4 separate regions of the Homo sapiens genome follow, and regions 2, 3 and 4 are each linked to region 1. Evidence: fine-mapped expression QTL. A gene starts in region 1. Each other region holds a variant in brackets. All regions are shown on one strand. Distances are from middle to middle. Region 1 holds the start of SNX1 (sorting nexin 1). Region 2 overlaps SNX1 (sorting nexin 1). Region 3 overlaps CSNK1G1 (casein kinase 1 gamma 1). Region 4 overlaps SNX1 (sorting nexin 1).

Region 1 (5,234 bases):
GAGATTACACGTGTGCATGGCACTCGGCCACTGCTTCAGGTTAACTCTAGAAAATAACTCCTCACTCTTCCAGGTTCCTTTTTGGAAAATAAATCAACATTTGCCTATGTGACCAATCACTTTCAGTGTCAGAGTTTCTGTTTTCATATTCTCAGTCTGCACATCATTCCAGCAGTTACCAACAGTAGCTGTCTTCCATGACTTATAGAAGAATTACTAAAGGAACAGACTAAATACTTACTTAAAATAACATACAGAAGGACTAAATTAGCGGCAAGAATTATTATTTCTCAGGCATGCACCTGCAATCCCAGCTACTTAGGAGGAAGGGAGGATCCATTGAGCCCAGAAGTTCAAGACAAGCCTGGGCAACACAGGGAGACTATGTCTCTAAAAACAAACAAAAATTGTTTCCTGTTTTATGACAGTCACAAAGACTTATTATTTCTCAGAATAAGAGACTTCATTTGACAGTTTTAGTTGTTATATTAGAATTATCAAGCACCTTATGAGCTGAGATTATGGACTCAATTTCTGAATACAGGACAGGGAAAATCTGACACAAATGAGGAAAGCCTCAAACTTTTTCAGACCACATGTTGCATAAAGAATTTATAGCTGTTTTATTTAGTTGGTTACACACTGAGTAGCTACTGTGAAGAGAAGCATTATGCCAAACAGATAAATTCACAGACCCAGCATTGAATTTTACAGCCTGGAACAACCTATACCAAGTGGTATGAGTAAATATTCTCATAAAATAGCCCAAAACATCTCTACTGGTTCCATAACTGATTACTGATTTCCACATTACAAAGATTATTTTTTTCTAATACCTAACTCTTATTAGAGACCCGGATATTTATTACTGAGGCAGGAGAATAGGGTCTGGAGGCAGGGAACTTAAGGGCAATTCATGCTGAATCAAGGAAAAACACCAAGGTTTGGGGGCAGGGAATCTGAGGTCAACTTACGTTAACTTTCTAAAAGAGAAAACACCAAGGTCTGGGGGCAAGGAATCTAAGGCCAATTCGTGCTGACTTCCCAAAGCTGAATTCCCAAAAGGAACCCCCTGGGTTTGGGGGCAGGGAACCTAAGGCCAATTAAGGCCAACTTCCTAAAGCTAAACCAAAAGGAAAAAACCCATCTGCCCACGCCCGAGTGGCAAAGGATCAAAGGCTACTATCCCTGCAACCCTCCCCATCCACCACGTCTCACATGGAAAGGGAGAGTGCCTTAGACTGGCCGCAGGCCAAGCAGGGACCATCCGTTCATCTGCACAGGACGCCAATTCACCTCGGCCTTTAGCCACAGACCAAATCCTTCATCCAGATAAGGGGTAACCCATAGGAACCATAAAAGGAGCACTTAAAATCCAGAAAACTTTGTAAGTGGGCTCTTGAGCCCCTTGCTCCGGCCCACTCACACCCTGTGGGGTGCTTTCTCGCTTTAATAAATTCCTGCTTTCGCTGCTTCGTTTGTGTTTCATTCCTTTGTTATTTTGTGCGTTTTGTCCAATTATTTGTTCAAAATGCCAAGAACCTCGACAACCTACACTCAAGGGCCTCCTACCGGTAACATTACGGGAAACACCATTTCCTCATCACATTTCAGATTTGCTCCCAGTGAGGTACGTGGGCACTTGAACACATCCCTTTAAAAAGGAGAAAGCTTTCTGATCTATGTAGTGATTTATCTGGCAGTGCCTTCTGTCCACCAGCCTCTGGCCTGATTTTCCTAGAGATCAGAAGAATCAACATAACTTTTGTAAACTAAGATCCAGAAAGGGCCTTTGGTTATTATCGGTAAATGCTGGGCTAAAGAAAGAACTGGTGGGCGGGTCACCACCCCAGGCTAGTCCACATAACGCTATTCATCTTAGAAGCAGTAAGACGGGGGAAAGGTCTGCATCCCATTCGCTTATTCCGTCCTACTGAATCTGCCTTGGCAGGACACGACCTGCAAAATAACCCCGTGGATCCGTGGAGTGTCACCACACTGCAGGGTCAAAGGACGGCGTCGGCGGTTCTCGGCTGTTAGGGAGCTAGCCGACGAAGGCACCACAACCCTCATTCTTTACTCTTCCCGCCTGGGGGCCGGGAAGCCAAGCTCTACCGCTTCGAGCACATCCAGGGTCCCCGGGGCCCGGACTGCTGACACCGAGGCAAGGTCTCACCGGGCCCACTCTGCCCAACCTCCCCGATTCTCGCTTAGCCTCTCTTCCCTTTCGGGGTGCCCTCCCGCCTGCTACCCCGAGGGGTGCAAACTCACGACCACCGCGGCGCCGGTGAAAATGTCCTCCCCCTCGGTGTCGCTGTCCCCAGCCTCGGGTTCTGATCCCCCGGCCGCCCCCTCGGACTCCGGCTCCAGGCCGGGGAAGGGCGGAGGCAGTCTCTCCGAAGCGCTACAGCCACCACCACCCGACGCCATCTTCTTCCACCCGCGGCGGAAGCCGCAACAACAACTTTATCGAGAGATAGCGCCGTGAGCAAAGCGATCCAACGGTGCGAGGAGTGGGAGGGCCGCAAGGGACCCCGTGGGATCCGAGGGGCGGAGACCTAGGGGCGGGGCTTAGGCGCTGGGGGCGGGGCGGCACCCGGCCAGCTGAGGCTGCGCAGCAAATCCGAGGCCTGGTTCGCGATGCTGAGATATTAACGAGTGGGGCCAAAGGGGCAGAAAAGTAGGAGTTAGGGGCTGCTCAGGTTTCTAGGGCCCTTTGTGCTCTGGATAGCTTTATCCAACAGGCTTCTAAGAGTTCGTCTGAATGAAGGAGTGTCACTAAAATGTTTGAAAACCTCTACATGCCATCTACCCATGCCAAGCACAATGCCCTCACAGAGAGTCAATAAATATTTCGATTGAGGTATCTGAACAAGACTAGAAGAAAGCTTCACCACTTATTCCTTGAGCAACATTCAGTTAATTCATTAAGAAATACAGATACTGAGCATCTACTGTATGCCTGGCACCTTGCTGTGAGTTTCAGATACAGAAATCAGGTATTTAATCGACAGTTCGACATGTTCAATGCTATGGTGCCCTGTGGGAGCACAGGGAAAGAGATAATCAATTCTGCTTGGAGAAGTAGGGAGGCCTCACAGATGAAGTGAGGCCTCAGTGTCCTAGATTTGGCTGGAAAAATGTTAGGATTATCCTCTCAATTGCTGTGGAGTAAGTGGAGTGGAATAGACGGCAGGGAAATTATTGAACCCTGACCAAAATTTCCTTGGGACCTAAGCAATTCATTGTCTGGTGATCCTAAGGCCTACATTAACTAGACAAACAAGACTGGAGTTTAAAGATAAATGGGCATGTTAGCATGGGACAATTCTGCAAGATAATCCTATCTTCTCAATAGAAATGGCATTTGTCACCAACTTTGACAAGAGGTTTAGTTAGTTTGGTTGTAACTGCAAATTCAGGGATGGACTCCCTCACAGGTCATGTGAGCTGTTTGAAGGCGGGGGCAGCGTTTTATCTTTGTATCTTCCATGCCTATGGATCACCTATGGCAAATTAGTACCTACAAATTTGATCGGAGGGATGGATGGATAAAATAAAATCGATTTTGTTACTGGCATCCATCACACCCACGAACACCAGAGGGCTTAAGATACACTTTTTTTTTTTTTTTTTTTTTTGAGGGAAGTCTCGCTCTTCTCCCCCAGGCTTGAGTGCAATGGCTCGATCTTGGTTCACTGCAACCTCTGCCTCCTGAGTTCAAACGATTCTCCTGCCTCTGCCTCCCAAGTAGCTGGGATTAAGGCCCCTGCCACCACGCCCAGCTAATTTTTGTATTTTTTAGTAGAGACGGGGTTTGCCCATGTTGGCCAGGCTGGTCTCGAACTCCTGACCTCAGGTGATCCGCCCGCCTCGGCCTCCCAAAGTGCTGGGATTATAGGCGTGAGCCATCGCGCCCGGCCAAGATACACTTTTAAGGATGGCGATCTCCATTATGTCACCACTGTACACATTAGACACGGGAAAACTTATGTTCTAAGTTGTCTTTGGAGGCCATTAGCAGAAATATTCGTTCAAAGGTGGGAAGCTGTGCTGGACTGAGTCCCTTAGGAGACGAGAAAGCCAAAAAGCCCTCCCCATGCCATACCTGACTACCTCACTGGCTTCCCATGACATCCCTTTTCACAGCAACTGAAACCTACTTCCTGTCCGATCAGGAAGTAAGAAAGACGTTGGCTGTCAGCGGATCCCGCGGAGAAATAATTGTAAAGAGTCTCCGTGCTGGAGAACTCAAGATCTCCTTTCCCCTACCCCTTCAGGATTCATCTTTAACTTATCACGGATACTGAGTGAGTCAGTCGCGGTTAACAGACCGTTACATCCACTTCTACCAGGCGGACACTACAAGTCCCAGAATACAATTCGCTGCCTTCCGAAGAAAATAGCTCACGCATCCCAGCATGCAATGTGCTGACGAGCCGCGAAGATTGTTTTTGTCCCGCCGAAATCGAGCAAAGCACGCTGGAACTTGTAGTCCTTGAGGCCCCTTCCCTAGGTCCTTCGAGCTACTCCGTCTGGCCCCGCCTTTTCTCTGCTCTCCTGAACCTTTAGGCTTGTCTCGGCCCATTTGAAGACCAGGAAGTTGATCAATCCCGAGGCTGCTGAGAGACGGTGGCGCGATTGGGACAGTCGCCAGGGATGGCTGAGCGTGAAGATGCAGCGGGTGTCCGGGCTGCTCTCCTGGACGCTGAGCAGAGTCCTGTGGCTCTCCGGCCTCTCTGAGCCGGGAGCTGCCCGGCAGCCCCGGATCATGGAAGAGAAAGCGCTAGAAGTTTATGGTAATTAATTTTACCCAGCACAGCATTTGGCGTTATAGGTGCAGGCCGGAGCTGAGGGGTGCGGGGATGATGGCCTCACCTGAGGGCTGGGAGGGGAGACCTTTTTTTTTGTTTGTTTGTTTGTTTGTTTTTGGCCAGATCTTGTCCGGGGCGTAGCAGGCGCTTTCTTCGGGGTCCTAAGTCACGTGGGGGGTGTGGGTCTTTCTGGGAACTGGGCTCTTCGTAAACCTGGGGCAAGCCGAACCCAGAGGTCTTAAAAGCTTCATTCTCCACGTGTGGCCTACGTCTTAGTAACCATTCCAAGACTTGTGGGGAGACCACAAGTCTAGGGTGCCTGGTTAGGAAGCAAAGCTGGCCTGATTGCACTACTAGAGCCTCGTTCTCTAGCTCCTGGACACGCACTCTTGCTACCGCTGAGGGCGCTTGTGGGTGACA
Region 2 (5,000 bases), 30 kb before region 1:
CATACAAATGAAAGAAAAATTTAAAAATAAAAATTAAAGCAAAATGATAGCCCTACCCAGTCACTTACTTCCTTCTAGTTTGCTTTCCTGTGAGATAAAACATTTCACTCCAGTGTTTCTTTTGATCCTTAATGACTTACATGTTTCTACAGCTGTATTTATATGCTATTTCATGTTTCAAATTTTGTAATTCTTTTAACATACATGTCCATGTACTAACATTTCTGTATACTTTGTTTATGATGAGAATCAAGTATTTGGTTATATTGATATATTTTACTTAATTCTTCCACTGTTAGCAATTGGGCTGTTTTCAGTTTTTGACAATCATGACTAGCCTACGCATAGCCTGTGAAAGAGACTGTCTACTTCAATCAACACTTTTCCTACATGGTAGTTCTGTGGTTTGTGGTAACTGTTAACCAGTGACCCGCCTGGCATAAAATATACATTCAATCTGAGCCAAGAAGTAACCTACAACATGCCAAGGACCTGCCAAATAGATCACTGTGTTGATCCAGTAAGACAATACTAGGCTGCTATTTGACCCTTACAACCAACTGCTTTTGACTTCGGGCAGAGCTTCTTTTATTTCAAAGGCTGAAAAATACTTGTCACTCTCAGGGGTTCACACAAAACTAGGATACAGTCTAGTACTAGGCATGTTAAGTGCTCACATATTTTTGGAATGAACTAGTTTCGTTTCACTAGGGGCAGATATAAATTATGAAATTCAGTTTGCACTGAATACTAACCTCTTCTTTTTCCAAGAACTCTCTGACGTCAGGGTCCTGTAACATGGTAGGATGATTTACAATCCTCTGAAGGTACCTAAAAGGTAAGCAGTTATCATCTGGTTAGTTGAGCTGGCCTCAGAAGGTTCTGGGCGTCACACAGTGCTGGCAGTGATACCATGTCTTCTGTACTTTTTGTACTTAAAGTACCCTAAGATAAGGTACTTAAGTAGGTCTCTCCTTGTAAGCATATTCAAGTTCACATTCCTGACATTTCCAAAAAGGGAGGGAAAAATAACTGGTCAGAAAGAAACCTCAGAGCCATTCATATTTGATTGATTGTCTAAGAATATGACTGCCTGCTCACTCAGGATGGGGAAAAAACAGAAGATGGTCTATTCTCAAGGTGGGAAAATAAGCGACTCAGGAAAAGTTAAGAGATAATATGGAGGTGTGCAACTTCAATTTATTCACGTTTCATCTCTAACTCAATGGACTGTCTCGTCATTTAGACTCACTTTTCAGCTTTTCATTTGTCCTCACATTATTCAGGAAAATGGCTGCATGGCACTTACCTTTCTAAAGCGGCCCTCCGTTTTTCAAGAAATTCTGCAGAAGAAGAATCTTCCTTCCCAACTTTCACTTTTGTCATCCCTAGAATGGAATTTAAAAAGCAAAATAACCATAAATCATCATGAAGAGGATAAATCTTTTTTTTTTTTAAGTGTCAACAGGAGGAAAGGCAGTGAGGCTAGCACACAGCCTAAGGCCACTTCTATGTTATATGCAGGGATGAACAAAAGGTTCTTTACATGAGAGCCACTTTTGAAAACTAGTCTCTAAGTGCTGAAGGTTCTAAACTCTAGGACTTGCAGAGTAAACATTTTCTTAAAAAGGCGGCCATGGAACCCTGAGTACAAACATCAACTGATGTTAATGAAGAGGCTCCTGGCCGGGCGCAGTGGCACACACCTGTAATCCCAGCACTTTGGGAGGCCAAGGCGGGCGGACCACGAGGTCAAGAGATCAAGACCATCCTGGCCAACGTGGTAAAACCCTGTTTCTACTAAAAATACAAAAATTAGCTGGGCATGGTGGCGGGCACCTGTAGTCCCAGCTAAGCGGGAGGCTGAGGCAGGAGAATCTCTTGAACCCGGAAGGTGGAGGTTTCAGTGAGCTGAGATCGCGCCACTGCACTCCAACCTGGTGACAGAGCGAGACTCCACCTCAAAAACAAACAAACAAACAAAAACCAAAAAACCAACCAAACAAACAAACAAAATGAAGAGGTTTCTTCCTCTGACCCCTAATCCAATGTAGTCTATTTCAATCTGGAGGCAACCGCAATCATGTAAGACTCCTGAAGACCAACAGAAAACAAACGAACATCTCTGGAGGCTAAACCCAGAGCTCCTACTGCACCCAAGGAGAACATGCCAAAATATGCTATTTTTCTCTAGACCTCCAGTGTAGGAAAACACTGGAAATGTCTCTTTTCTAACCACAAGACTGTTAATAGAAGTAGTCTCATATACTGAACAGTGAGTGAATTTTGGAGAGAATGCAAAGGAAAACAATCCAAGTGGAATGAAAGACCACAGGCTTACCTATGAGGCTCTTCTCCGGGGGCGGAGGGACAATGAAGCCATTCTGAGAGTGCTTCTCGGAAAGCTTCTCATAAAGACCCAGAAAGTCACTAAATCTTCTTTTTACTGCAAACTGTTTGCTTCTGAACAATGGTAAGCTTGTCTTGGGGACAGGAAAAAACACAAGGCAATTTCATTCCAAATAGGGGATGGTATCTT[G/C]AAAGTCATCCTATTGACATTAAAGAAACCCATTTCCCAGATCCCTGCCCTTCAGTCACCTGGCAAATAACTTTCTCCAAGGCAGAGAGTCTTAAACTTTTTAAAACTATAGTTCCCCTTTGGCAGTCTGGGAGCCTAAGGAGCTCTTCTCAGAATAATGATTTTAAATGCAAAAAATATATAGGATTATAAAGGCAATCAATTAAATTCAAATACATCTGAAGCCATGGTGACCCTTGAGAAAAAAAAATTCAAATACAGTTTCATTCCCAGGTTAAGAACTCTTGTTCTAAAGAAAGAAATGTTCAGTTCTAGTTTAAAGCTAGAATTCTATAGTAACCAGTAACCCATTCATCTTTTATTGACTATTTTTTTTTGGAGACAGGATCTCACTTTGTTGCCCAGGCTGGAGTGCATTGGTGCGATCACAGCTTACTGCAGCCTCAAACTCCTGGGCTTAAGCGATCCTCCCACCTCAGCCTCCCAAGTAGCTAGGAATACAGGCACACGCTACCATGCCCAGCTCATTCTTCACTGCTTTTTTTTTTTTTTTTTTTTGAGATGGAGTCTCACTCTGTCACCCAGGCTGGAGTGCAGTGGTGCAATCTTGGCTCACTGCAACCTCCACCTCCCAGGTTCAAGCAATTCTCTTGTCTCAGCCTCCTGAGTGGCTGGGATTACAGGCTCCTGCCACCAGGCCCAGCTAATTTTTATAGTTTTTTAGTAGAGATGGGGTTTCACCATGTTGGCCGGGCTGCTCTCGAACTCCTGACCTCAGGTGATCCACCTGCCTCAGCCTCCCAAAGTGCTGGGATTACAGGCGTGAGCCACTGCGCCAAGCCTCATTGACTTATTTAAGGGTATTAGCTGCTGGAATTACAGCAGCCAAACTAAAGACAGACAAAAAGTGCTTCTAAGAAGGGGAAGCAGGTGATGAGCAGGGTGGGAATTGGATGAAATGTCTAAGCTGTAGACAGTAACCTCTAAAGTATCATAATCTAGAGCTCACAGGACGCAGGCCAACAAGTAGTAGAGAGACAATACAAAGCAGATTTCTACCAAAAAAGTTAGGGCTACATCACAATGAGAGTTCACTTTAAACTCACCAGATAGGCAAAATTTAAGGAGGTTGGCCTCACCAATTGCTGGCAAGGAAGTGAATCAATGGGAACTTTTATACACTGCTGATGGGGTACAAATTGGTACAAAGACTTTAAAAAACAGTTTGTATTCCTTGTGTCCAATATTTGCAGTACCTATGACCCACGGGAATTACTCCTGGTTACATACTCTAGAGAAATCCTTCTACGTGTGTACTAGAGATGTGCAAGAAAGTTCCCAGTTACAAAAACCAGAAACATGTTGACAGCAGAAAATGTTCACAACAGGAAAACATAAATATTTTGTGGTATATGAACTAACTACAGCCATGACCATCAAGGATGGGTGAGAGAAACAATGCTAAATAAAGCAAGCACAATTATCAGCATGATACTATTTTTTTTTTTTTTTTTTTGAGACAGAGTCTCCCTCTGTCGCCCAGGCTGGAGTGCAGTGGCGCGATCTCGGCTCACTGCAAGCTCCGCCTCCCGGGTTCACGCCATTCTCCTGCCTCAGCCTCCCCAGCAGCTGGGGCTACAGGTGCCTGCCACCATGCCCAGCTAATTTTTTTGTATTTTTAGTAGAGACAGGGTTTCCCTGTGTTAGCCAGGATGGTCTCGATCTCCTGACCTTGTGATCTGCCCGTCTCAGCCTCCCAAAGTGCTGGAATTACAGGCGTGAGCCACCGTGACCGGCCCCCATGATACTATTTTTATGAAACTCAAAACAAAGCAAAACAGTCATATATATATATATATATATATATATATATATGTAAAGATTTCTTATAAAGGAAATGAGAGACAACTCAGGAGAAAGGACACCTCTAAGGTATGAGGCAGGGGATATGATGGAAAAACACGCAGGTGGATCCAATGATACTCAACTTTAAGACTAGTGGTAAGTTTAGGGCTTCATTTATTATGCTTCCTAACTTGTATACAACATTGTATACATTTTGTATGCATTAATATTATATACAAAAGAAGAGCAGACTAGAGGGGCAAAAGGTTAAGTATTTAAAAAAGCTCTCTGAAACCTCAGAAGCATTGAAGATTTTAAAAGATGGTTTAGGGCAATCTGTGAATCTAGCTCCAAACCACATGGTTCTCTAAGAGGGATGGGGCTGTATCAGATATACCACGAGTTAATAGAATCACACTGAAATGTTAGCTTTCTGGAAGAGTATTAAAAAGACTCAGTCTGGAGTACCCAGATGAGATTACCAAGGGGATGCAGGCTTGCTCTATCTTGAGTAAACATGAAGATGTTGGCAAAGAAACAAAGGAGATACCCAGAAATAATCTGAATGATGACCTTGGTATAAGCACCAAAGTCTATGAAGATGGTCATCAGCAGG
Region 3 (5,231 bases), 220 kb before region 1:
AAATTCTATAGAAAACTTTAGGCCGGGCACAGTGGCTCACGCCTGTAATCCCAGCACTTTGGGAGGCCAAGGCTGGCGGATCACCTGAGGTCAGGAGTTTGAGACCAGCCTGGCCAACATGGTGAAACACTGTCTCTACTAAAAATAGAAAAATTAGCCGGGCGTAGTGGCGCACACCTGTAATCCCGGCTACATAGGAGGCTGAAGCAGGAAAATTGCTTGAACCTGGGAGGCGGAGGTTGCAGTGAGCCTAGATTATGCCACTGCACTCCAGCGTGGGCGACAGAGCGAGACTCCATCTCAAAAAAAAAGTTCCATGTCTCTAAAGGCTGTGACATGATAATAGCAGCAATAATACGAATTATGATGTAGCAGGACAAGCCGCAGACAAAACCCCTCAGACACCAAAGGGCTTTATTCGGCCGGGAGCATCAGCAAACTTAGGTCTCAAAAAACCAAGCTCTCCAAGTGAGCAATTCCTGTCCCTTTTAAGGGCTTACAACTGTAAGGGGGTCCACGTAAGAGGGTCATGATCGATTGAGCAAGCAGGGGGTACGTGACTGGGGGCTGTATGCACGGGTATTCAGAATGGAACAGAACAGGACAGAGATTTTCATGATGCTTTTCCATACAATGTCTGGAATCTATAGATAACACAAGCAGTTAAGTCAGGGCTTGATTTTTAACTACCAGGCCCAGGGCTCAGAGCTGGGCTGTCTGCCTGTGAATTTCATTTCTGCCTTTTAGTTTTTACTTCTTTTTTCTTTGGAGGCAGAAATTGGGCATAAGACAACATGAGGGGTGGTCTCCTCCCTTTATGATAGACAAGCTGTATTAACTTTTTTTCTTTTCTTTTTTTTTTTTTTTTTTTTTGAGACAGAGTCTTGCTCTCTCGTCCAGGCTGGAGAACAGTGGCATGATTTCAGCTTACTGCACCCTCCACCTCCTGAGTTCCATTGATTCTCCTGCCTTAGCCTCCCAAGTAGCTGGGACTACAGGCGTGTGCCACCATGCCCGGCTAATTTTTGTAGTTTTAATAGAGACAGGTTTTGCCCTGTTTTCCAAGCTTGTCCTGAACTCCTGGCCTCAAGTGATGAGCTCGCCTTGGCCTCCCAAAGTGTTGGGATTACAGGCGTGAGCCACCGAGCCCAACCTGCATTAACTTTTTCTGTTTGTTTGTTTGTTTGTTTGTTTGTTTGTTTGTTTTAAAAAGCAAAACTGAGTGCCAGTGGCTTATGTTTTTAATCCCAGTGCTTTGAGAGGCTGGGGTTGGAGGATTGCTAAAGGCCAGGAGTTCAAGGCTGCCATGAGCTCTGACCATGCTACTGCACTCCGGCGTAGCTGACAGAGCGAGACCCTATCTGTTAAAACAAACAAGCAACAACAACAGCAAAACCCAAATGTGTGCTTTAAATAGATAAATTGTATAGTAGGTGAATTATATTTAATAAAGCTGTTTTTAAAAAACACAGATTTGACCCATGGAGAAATTTTGCCCCAGAAAGGGGGCATAAATATAGTATTCAAGTGAGGAAGAGCATTCAGTGTGTTAGAAGAAATTTTAAGTCTCTCGAGGGAGGAATAATTAGCTCCTTTGAAAAAAATTTGTGGACATGTTAAAATCACTGCACAGATTTTTTAAAAAAAATTGTTTCAGGAGGACAGTTGTGAGGCCAGTGCACTTTTGGCTCAGTGGGAATGAATGGGTAAGTGAGTGGGCAAGCAGGATCATTTGGTTGGTGTGGCAGAAGGGAGGAGGGCTCAGGCTTTTTGGACTCCTTTGACTGTGTTTGACAGTGTGACCTAGTCAGTGAACATAATTCTGTGAGGCTCAGCGTCCTTTTTGAAAAGGAATAATTGCCTTTACTAAGGCAAGTAATTCCAGTTTGACTCCACTGAATAGGTCACACAGCACCTAGAGTCAATCGTTTAGAAAATGTAAATGCTTTTTGTAAAGCTAAATCCCTTTAAGCATAAATGTCAGTACCATTCTTAAATGTCTTCTTATTGGACTATCAGTGACCTATAAAATCCTGAACAATGGACTCCTGCTACCTCTTTACTTTGCTCATTGTAATCCCCGGCGTTGCTGGTCTTCTTTCACCAAAAGCCTTTCTTAATAGGCTGCTGCTTTT[T/C]CCTTTCTGGAAACTGTGTTCCCTAGCTCTTGACAAGGTTGGCTCCATCTCTTCCTTGAGGACACTGTTTAAATGTGGCTTCTAATTTATGTTTTCACAACAGTGTACAAGGATTCCCTCTTCTTCTCATCCGCACCAATACTTGTTATCTTTGGTCTTTTTTGTAATTGCCATCTGACAGAGTAAGAATGTAAGTTAGTATTCCTATTATGGAAAACTGTATGGAGGTTTGTCAAAAAACTAAAAATAGAATTACTACATGATCCAGCAATACCACTTCTGGGTATTTATCCAAAAGATTTGAAATCAGTTTGTTGAAGAGATGTCTGCTTTCTTATGTTCATTGCAGCATTATTCACAATAGCCAAGTTATGGAATCAACCTAAGTGTTCAACACATGAATGAATAAAGAAAATGTACACACACACGCACACACATATACATATTCAGCCTTAAAGAAGGAATTATGTCATTTGTGGCAACTTGGATGGAACTGGAGAATATTTTATTATGCTAAGTAAAATAAGCCAGGTACAGAAAAACAAACACCGCGTGTTCTTACTTATGTGTGGAATCTAAAACAACTGAACTCATAGAAGCAGAGAATAGAATGGTGGTTACAGAGCCTGGAGGGTTGAGAAAGTGGTGAGACCATGGTTAAAGGGAACAAAATCTCAGCTGAGGGATATGTTTTTTTTTTTTTTTTTTAATTCTGTGGTACAGTGTGGTGAAGATAGTTTTTGTACATTTTAAAATTGCTGAGAGAATAAATTTCAAATATTCTTACCACAAAAATGTTAAGTATTTAAGGTAATGGATATGTTAACTAGCTTGATTTAATTATTATATATTATATTCATAAATTATAACATTACTTTGTACCCCTTACATTTATATAATTATAAATTGTCAACATACAATTTTTAAACTTTTAAAAAATAAATGTGTCTTCTAATAAAAGGCTTCCCACCCCTCTATCTAAAACTCTTCCATGCTGTGCATGGTGACACATGCCTGTAATCCCGGTTTCTCAGGAGGCTGGGGTGGGAGAATCTGTTGAACCCATGTGTTCAAGGCTGCATTGCACTGTGATCTCACCTGTGAACAGGCACTACACTCCAGCCTGGGCTACATAGCAAGAACACATCTCTAAATATGAATAAAATAAAACTTTCCTCTTTGATTTCACCGTAATCCTTAGTTTAGCAGATCTTTGATATGTAGCATCGTCCCGATTTGTGTTTTTTTAATTCATGTGTTTGTGAGGCCCTCTCTACACTAGAAGTTCTGTGAGCAGAGGAGCTGTATATGTCAAGTTCACTGTTATATCCTCAGTGGAATAACCCAGTTTTAGGCACATAGGAGGCACTCACTGAATAGTTATTTATTAATTTTTTTTTTTTGCCATATACCTACAACCTTCTAACTTTTATTTTTAAGATTAAAAAAAAAGTTCTTGGTTTTTGGGGTTTTTTTTTTTTTCTCCCAGCAGGAGATTTTTTTTCTTACTTTTAAAAAATTATTATTATACTTTAAGTTCTGGGGTACCTGTGCAGAACATGCAGTTTTGTTACATAGGTATACACGTGCCATGGTAGTTTCCTGCACCCATCAACCCATCACCTACATTAGGTATTTCTCCTAATGCTATCCCTACCCTAGCCCCACACCCCCCAACAGGCCCCAGTGTGTGATGTTCCCCTCCCTGTGTCCATGTGTTCTCATTGTTCAGCTCCCACTTATGAATGAGAACATGCGGTGTTTGATTTTCTGTTCTTGTGTTAGTTTGCTGAGAATGATGGTTTCCAGCTTCATCCATGTCCCTGCAAAGGACATGAACCCATCTTTTTTTATGGCTGCATAGTATTCCATGGTGTATATATGCCACATTTTCTTTATGCAGTCTATCATTGATGGACATTGGGGTTGGTTCCAAGTCTTTGCTATTGTGAATAGTGCCACAATAAACATACGTGTGCATGTGTCTTCATAGTAGAATGATTTATAACCCTTTGGGTATATACCCAGTAATGGGATTGCTGGGTCAAATGGTATTTCTAGTTCTAGATCCTTGAGGAATTGCCACACTGTCTTCCACAATGGTTGAACTAATGTACACTCCCACCAACAGTGTAAAAGCATTCCTATTTCTCCACATCCTCTCCAGCATCTGTTTCCTGACTTTTTAATGATCACCATTCTAACTGGCGTGAGATGGTATCTCATTGTGGTTTTGATTTGCATTTCTCTAATGACAGTGATGATGAGCATTTTTTCATGTTTGTTGGCTGCATAAATGTCTTCTTTTGAGAAGTGTCTGTTTATATCCTTTGCCCACTTTTTGATGGGGTTGTTTGTTTTTTTCTTGTAAATTTGTTTAAGTTCTTTGTAGATTCTGGATATTAGCCCTTTGTCAGATGGATAGATTGCAAAAATTTTCTCCCATTCTGTAGGTTGCCTGTTCACTCTGATGATAGTTTCTTTTGCTGTGCAGCAGCTGTTTAGTTTAATTAGATCCCATTTGTCAATTTTGGCTTTTGTTGCCATTGCTTTTGGCGTTTTAGACATGAAGTCTTTGCCCATGCCTATGTCCTGAATGGTATTGCCTGGGTTTTTATCTAGGATTTTTATGGCTTTAGGTCTTACATTTAAGTCTTTAATCCATCTTGAGTTAATTTTTGTATAAGGTGTAAGAAAGGGGTCCTGTTTCAGTTTTCTGCATATGGCTAGCCAGTTTTCCCAACACCATTTATTAAATAGGGAATCCTTTCCCCATTTCTGGTTATTGTCAGGTTTGTCAAAGATCAGATGGTTGTAGATGTGTGGTGTTATTTCTGAGGCCACTGTTCTGTTCCATTGGTCTATATATCTGTTTTGGTCCCAGTACCATGCTGTTTTGGTAACTGTTGCCTTGTAGTATAGTTTGAAGTCAGGTAGCGTGATGCCTCCAGCTTTGTTCTTTTTGCTTAGGATTGTCTTGGCTATGCGGGCTCTTTTTTTGGTTCCATATGAAGTTTAAAGTAGTTTTTTCCAATTCTGTGAAGGAAGTCAATGGTAGCTTGATGGGGATAGCATTGAATCCATAAATTACTTTGG
Region 4 (5,000 bases), 42 kb before region 1:
ACTATATAACTGGTGAATGAGGAACAAAATACTTATATAGTCTCAAAGTATCTCCCCACAAATTACTTGTAAATTACAAAGAGGAAATCGTAAATTTAAAATGAAATCTGGCAGACACCAACCTAAGCGGTGAACAGAGTTAACAACATTAATGGGACCAACTGACATTATATGCTGATTACGACGCACTGACGACACACTGCTTCTGTGATATTCCCACCCAGAATGCAAAACCCTCACCTAGTCATGCGGAACCATCACACAAATCCAAACTGAGGAACATTCGACAAAATAGCCTGTATTCTTCAAAAATGTCATGGTAATGAAAGACAAAAGAAAGTTGAGGAATCTGCAGTATTGAGAGACACACGTTTACAAATGTAACATGATCCTGCACAAGGTAAAAGAATGGCTACAAAGGACATTATTGGGATAAATGGCAAAATTTAAATATGAATCATGGGTTAGATAACAGTATTAAATCACTGTTAAACTTCCTGATTTTGATAATAATACTTAAAAAAATACTGAATAATGCTTAAAGTAATTCTCTTCTTCTCTTAGAAGAGAATGTCCTGTTCTTAGGGAAATGCATACTGTTTTGGGCATAATGGGGTATCTGTGCAAATTATTCTCAAATGATTAAGAAAATGCAACATGAAATATAGATAAGGCAAATGGGATAAAATGTAAACACTCAGTAAATCTGGATAAAAGATATATAGGAGTTCTTTGTGATATTCCTGCAACTTTTCTGTAAATCTGAAATTGTATTCAAAATTTTAAAGTTACCAATAAAACAAAACAAACAACCCCTGACCAAGAATCCAACAACAAGGGATGAATCAAAATTATGGTACAGTCACCCTATGGATGCCTTCAAATTACACAGCTTTACAGATCAACTTTGTGAAGATATATAACAATATAGTAAAATGCTTATAACATGTACAATGTTGAATGATAAAAGCAGGATACAAAATACTTTATGTGTATATTATTACAACTATGTAAAAGCAAGCATATAATAAAGACTGGAAGGATAAAACCAAAGTTGATGGTAAGGATACTGAGGGGTAGGGAGAGTGACTTTTTCCAAAAACTTCACCTGTTAAAAAGAAATACTTGCACCACTGGCCCTTCCCCTGGTGCTGCATCTGTGTACAGGGAATCAGAATGTTTACTGCGTTTTCTTGTCTCAGGTTGCCTCGCCCCAAACCTTAGCCCCCCACCAAAGAGAACTGATACAGCAGGACCTGGGGCCCCAGTGGCAGGAGCGTCTTTGGGATGGAGGGGCTGGAGGTGGCAAGGCTCCCATAGTGGCAGTCAGCAGCTCGAGCTCACAAAGGAGCTTCAAAGCCCACTCTGACCAGTATAGCTTGAGCAGCTGTGGACACAGCTAAGGGGGAAGCCCATCCTTGACTGACGAGACTCTGGCCTCCCCTGGCTAGACCGGCAGAGATCTGTGTGAACACCCTTTGGCTGTGTGTGCAACTCCTGAGGGCTCTTGCTGGCAGGCTACCTCCTGGGCACAGACAGTAGAGCTTCTTTGAACCTCCTAAGGTTCAGGAGCTCTTGGATCACCCTATCTAGAGGCAGAGGGCATGGCTTTCATGTCTATGGAGACAAAGCATCAAGTCATTATCAGACCTTCACACCTTCACACAGTCTACTGAGGATGTGTTTTGATGGGTGACAAAAATAGGTTTAGTTATATATAAGACTTGCCATCAGAGGGCAAGACTCAGAGAACCCTGAGCAGCTTAGGGAAGCAGGAAGAATAAAAGAGAAAGGCTCTTGCTTAATGATAGGGACACCAAAAAAAAAAAAAAAAGAGAGAGAGAAAGTCTCTGCCTCCTTTGCAGGAGAATAGGTTTTAATAGATTTTGCTCCTCTTATTTTAAGAGATGTTTTTAAAACTCCTTCCCTAAAGAAGTGGGAATACGAAACAGATTGAGACCCTCAGAACAGGTAGCTGAGGTAGGCGGAGAGAAAGAAACCCCATTTCCAGAGGGAAGCAGCAGCACAAAACTTGTGAACGGTAGAGAAAAACTTACTATACCTGGGCAACTTCTTGGTTAGGAGTATTCCAGACCTGATTCCCAACTGCTCCCCAGCCTAAGCAAAAACCACCAACATTCTGAGTCATGTGACCTGATTTTAAAATATTTTATTACATAACCTTTTCATGGCACCATCAGGAGTAACAGAAAACGTTATTCCCAGTTCCTAAACCACATCCTGAAAAATATACATTTGTATTTA[T/C]ATATTTATATCAATACTCCACCCCATCCCATAATTCCACCACCTATTGTAGGTCTTTTGCTTAAAGCAGGAAACTATTCTCTTAGGTAAGAAAATATATATGGAAGCTAAATGAAATAACGGTTAGAGTAACTGGGGACAGTTGGTCGTGGGGACAGGGAGGAAGGGGTTAAGTCCAGCCTAGGCAGGATGCATCACTAGGGGTCCATCAAGGTGGAGGAGGACAGTGTATAAAAAGGCAGCGTCACACAGGTGGGCTCTGGGGTCCTTGGTCCATTAGGAGATGGCCTTTGCCTCAGGAAGGAAGGCTTCCCAGTACTTTGCCAGCTGCAAAGAAGTGGGGACATTAAGCAAGTGCCCCCACCTAGTGGCAGAGCCTAAGCCAGCCTGGGAGGAATCAAGCACAGTACCCTGGCGCTCCCCAAGCGCCTGCCACACAAAGGCAGGCTCCGAGCAGCTGCACAGGCCACATGACCTTCACACCTCCCTCTCGACAGGGAAGGCAGCAGTTACTGAGCCCCAAGTGCAAGGGCAGTCTCTGAAGACAGTCTTGGCTCCACCCCAGAGGGAGCACCCCTGTGGTGGCCACAGCTTTGCCTGGCTCAGTTAGTTCCTCACAGTGGGGCCACTGTTTCACATACCGATGAGGCCTCAGCCTCAGGAGGGCCAGGTGGTACCATGGGGTGGCTCCTCGAAGGGTAAGCAGTTACAGGGAGATGGGGTTTGTCCTCAAAAACTAACTCACCTCAGAATGAGGGCAGCAGACCTGGGCCCTCCTGCTTGGTAAAAGACCCTGTTGGATGCTCCATGTCAGAGCAGCAGGACCTATTTTCAATGATGGACTATAGGAGGGCCCAGCCCCTCAGAAGCAGGGCCTGCACATCTTGTTGCAGAAGCCCCGAGGAGGCAGCTGGCCTTTGGAGCAGGCAGTAGAGGATGAAGGTCACACACAACTTACATACCTGCTGCTGTGAGTAAAGGAGTGTCTCAAGGTACTTGATCACGTGGTTCTTGAAGTCCTTGGATTTCTCTTTCTAGGAGACAAGATTCTACACTGACCATCCAGTTTTTGCTTTCCCTTTCGATGGGATGGTGGTGTTTATTGCTGACCAAGGCCAAACACAGTCTCAGAAAGTAGAGGCAGCAGGTGGAACAGCTGTAATTTCCAGCCAAAGAGGGTCTGCCAAGGCCTTGAAAGGCTTTGTTGGAGGGCAGGAGATGGGAAGTGGAGGAGAAACGACAGGGGACCGAGGGTATATGGCAGCTGCAAGATTTGTGTTTAACTGCTGTGGTCCAGCCACAAGTGTAAGATTGCCACTGTTCCTAGGATCAAGCACACACCCCCCCAAAGAAGGCCACGCCTGCTCACGAGAACTGCCAAGTTACTGGCACCTCTCTCTTTACCCAACAGAGTTGGACAACACCAAGAGTACTCCCAAAACAAGCACTGCATGCTAAGTGAGAAGTAGGATTTTCTATCTCACCTCAAACCGTATCACTTCTTTTCGGACCACTGTTGAAATCCTCTCGAAGTCCCTTTCATATTGAGTCACCCGAGACTCCCACTGGGAAGAAAGAGGAAAGAAAGGATCACCTCATATTATGGCACCATTATTAAGCCTTCACATTTGGACAGCGATTTTACATATGAGGGCTCAATTGATCATTATGTCTGTCTGTCCCTGTGGGTAAGATGAGGTGTCACAGAGGATTCCACACGTAAGTCAGAGTCCGGCAGAAGGCTACTTTAGGGGCTGACTGGAAAAGAGATGCCTGTGTTTCAGGCATCTGGGACCAAGTGTGGTCCTTCAAGAAGGCTCTGACATGCCAGCAGCCTCCAGTTTAGGTACTCACCAGCAGGGCTGAAAGGCCTGGAAAACTTAATTTAGTTCTCACGAGAAGGCATATCTGAATCAGCTAGGTAGCTTTTCAAAGACCCAGCCAGGACCCCTCCTGCCAAGATTTTTTTTTTTGAGATGGAGTCTCGCTCTGTCATCCAGGCCGGAGTACAGTGGTGCGATCTTGGCTCACTGCAACCTCTGCCTCTCAGGTTCAAGCGGTTCTCGTGCCTCAGCCTCCTGAGTAGCTAGGACTACAGGCGTGTGCCATCACGTCTAATTTTTTTTTTTTTTTTTTTGAGACAGAGTCTTGCTCTGTTGCCAGGCTGGAGTGCAGTGGCGTGATCTCAGCTCACTGCAACCTTCGCCTCCCAGGTTCAAGCGATTCTCCTGCCTCAGCCTCCTGAGTATCTGAGACTATAAGTGGGTGCTACCACGCCCAGCTAATTTTTGTATTTTTTTTAGTAGAGACGGGGTTTCACCATGTTGGCCAAGATGGTCTCAATCTCTTGACCTCGTGATCCACTCACCTTGGCCTCCCAAAGTGCTGGTATTACAGGCGTGAGCCACCGTGCCCAGCCCTGGCTAATTTTTTGTATTTTTAGTAGAGATGGGGTTTTACCATGTTGGCCAGGCTGGTCTAAAACTCCTGACCTCGGCCGGGCGCGGTGGCTCACGCCTGTAATCCCAGCACTTTGGGAGGCCGAGGCAGGTGGATCACAAGGTCAGGAGATCGAGACCATCTTGGCTACTAACACGGTAGTACAAAAAATTAGCCAGGTGTGGTGGCAGGAGCCTGTAGTCCCAGCTACTTGGGAGGCTGAGGCAGGAGAATGGCGTGAACCCAGGAGGCAGAGCTTGCAGTGAGCTGAGATCGCGCCACTGCACTCCAGCCTG

What was found. PIP is the estimated chance that this variant, and not a neighbour inherited with it, causes the effect.
Region 2: its variant is fine-mapped to the expression of SNX1 in whole blood (INTERVAL, PIP 0.97).
Region 3: its variant is fine-mapped to the expression of SNX1 in blood mononuclear cells (TOPMed, PIP above 0.99).
Region 4: its variant is fine-mapped to the expression of SNX1 in whole blood (TOPMed, PIP 0.97).

The regions. Positions count from the first base shown.
Region 1 is chr15:64,093,210-64,098,443 of GRCh38, reverse strand. It overlaps SNX1 (sorting nexin 1), which reads right to left and starts at 2,462. Exons shown (of 15, transcript NM_003099.5): 1 at 2,272-2,462. The coding sequence starts at 2,430. CIAO2A (cytosolic iron-sulfur assembly component 2A) reads left to right here and starts at 4,606. Exons shown (of 5, transcript NM_032231.7): 1 at 4,606-4,799. The coding sequence starts at 4,676. RefSeq lists enhancers at 2,139-2,218, 2,359-2,478, 4,194-4,923, 4,969-5,234.
Region 2 is chr15:64,123,562-64,128,561 of GRCh38, reverse strand. It overlaps SNX1 (sorting nexin 1), which reads right to left. Exons shown (of 15, transcript NM_003099.5): 6 at 2,342-2,483; 7 at 1,310-1,388; 8 at 756-831. Among named protein-coding and RNA genes, the nearest start is that of SNX22, 26 kb to the left of the region's middle. The variant G/C (reference allele first, on the strand shown) is at 2,540.
Region 3 is chr15:64,312,178-64,317,408 of GRCh38, reverse strand. All of the region lies in intron 1 of CSNK1G1 (casein kinase 1 gamma 1), which reads left to right. Among named protein-coding and RNA genes, the nearest start is that of CSNK1G1, 41 kb to the left of the region's middle. The variant T/C (reference allele first, on the strand shown) is at 2,136.
Region 4 is chr15:64,135,160-64,140,159 of GRCh38, reverse strand. SNX1 (sorting nexin 1) reads right to left here. Exons shown (of 15, transcript NM_003099.5): 13 at 3,750-3,830; 14 at 3,228-3,299; 15 at 1-2,592. The coding sequence ends at 2,542. Among named protein-coding and RNA genes, the nearest start is that of SNX22, 14 kb to the left of the region's middle. The variant T/C (reference allele first, on the strand shown) is at 2,266.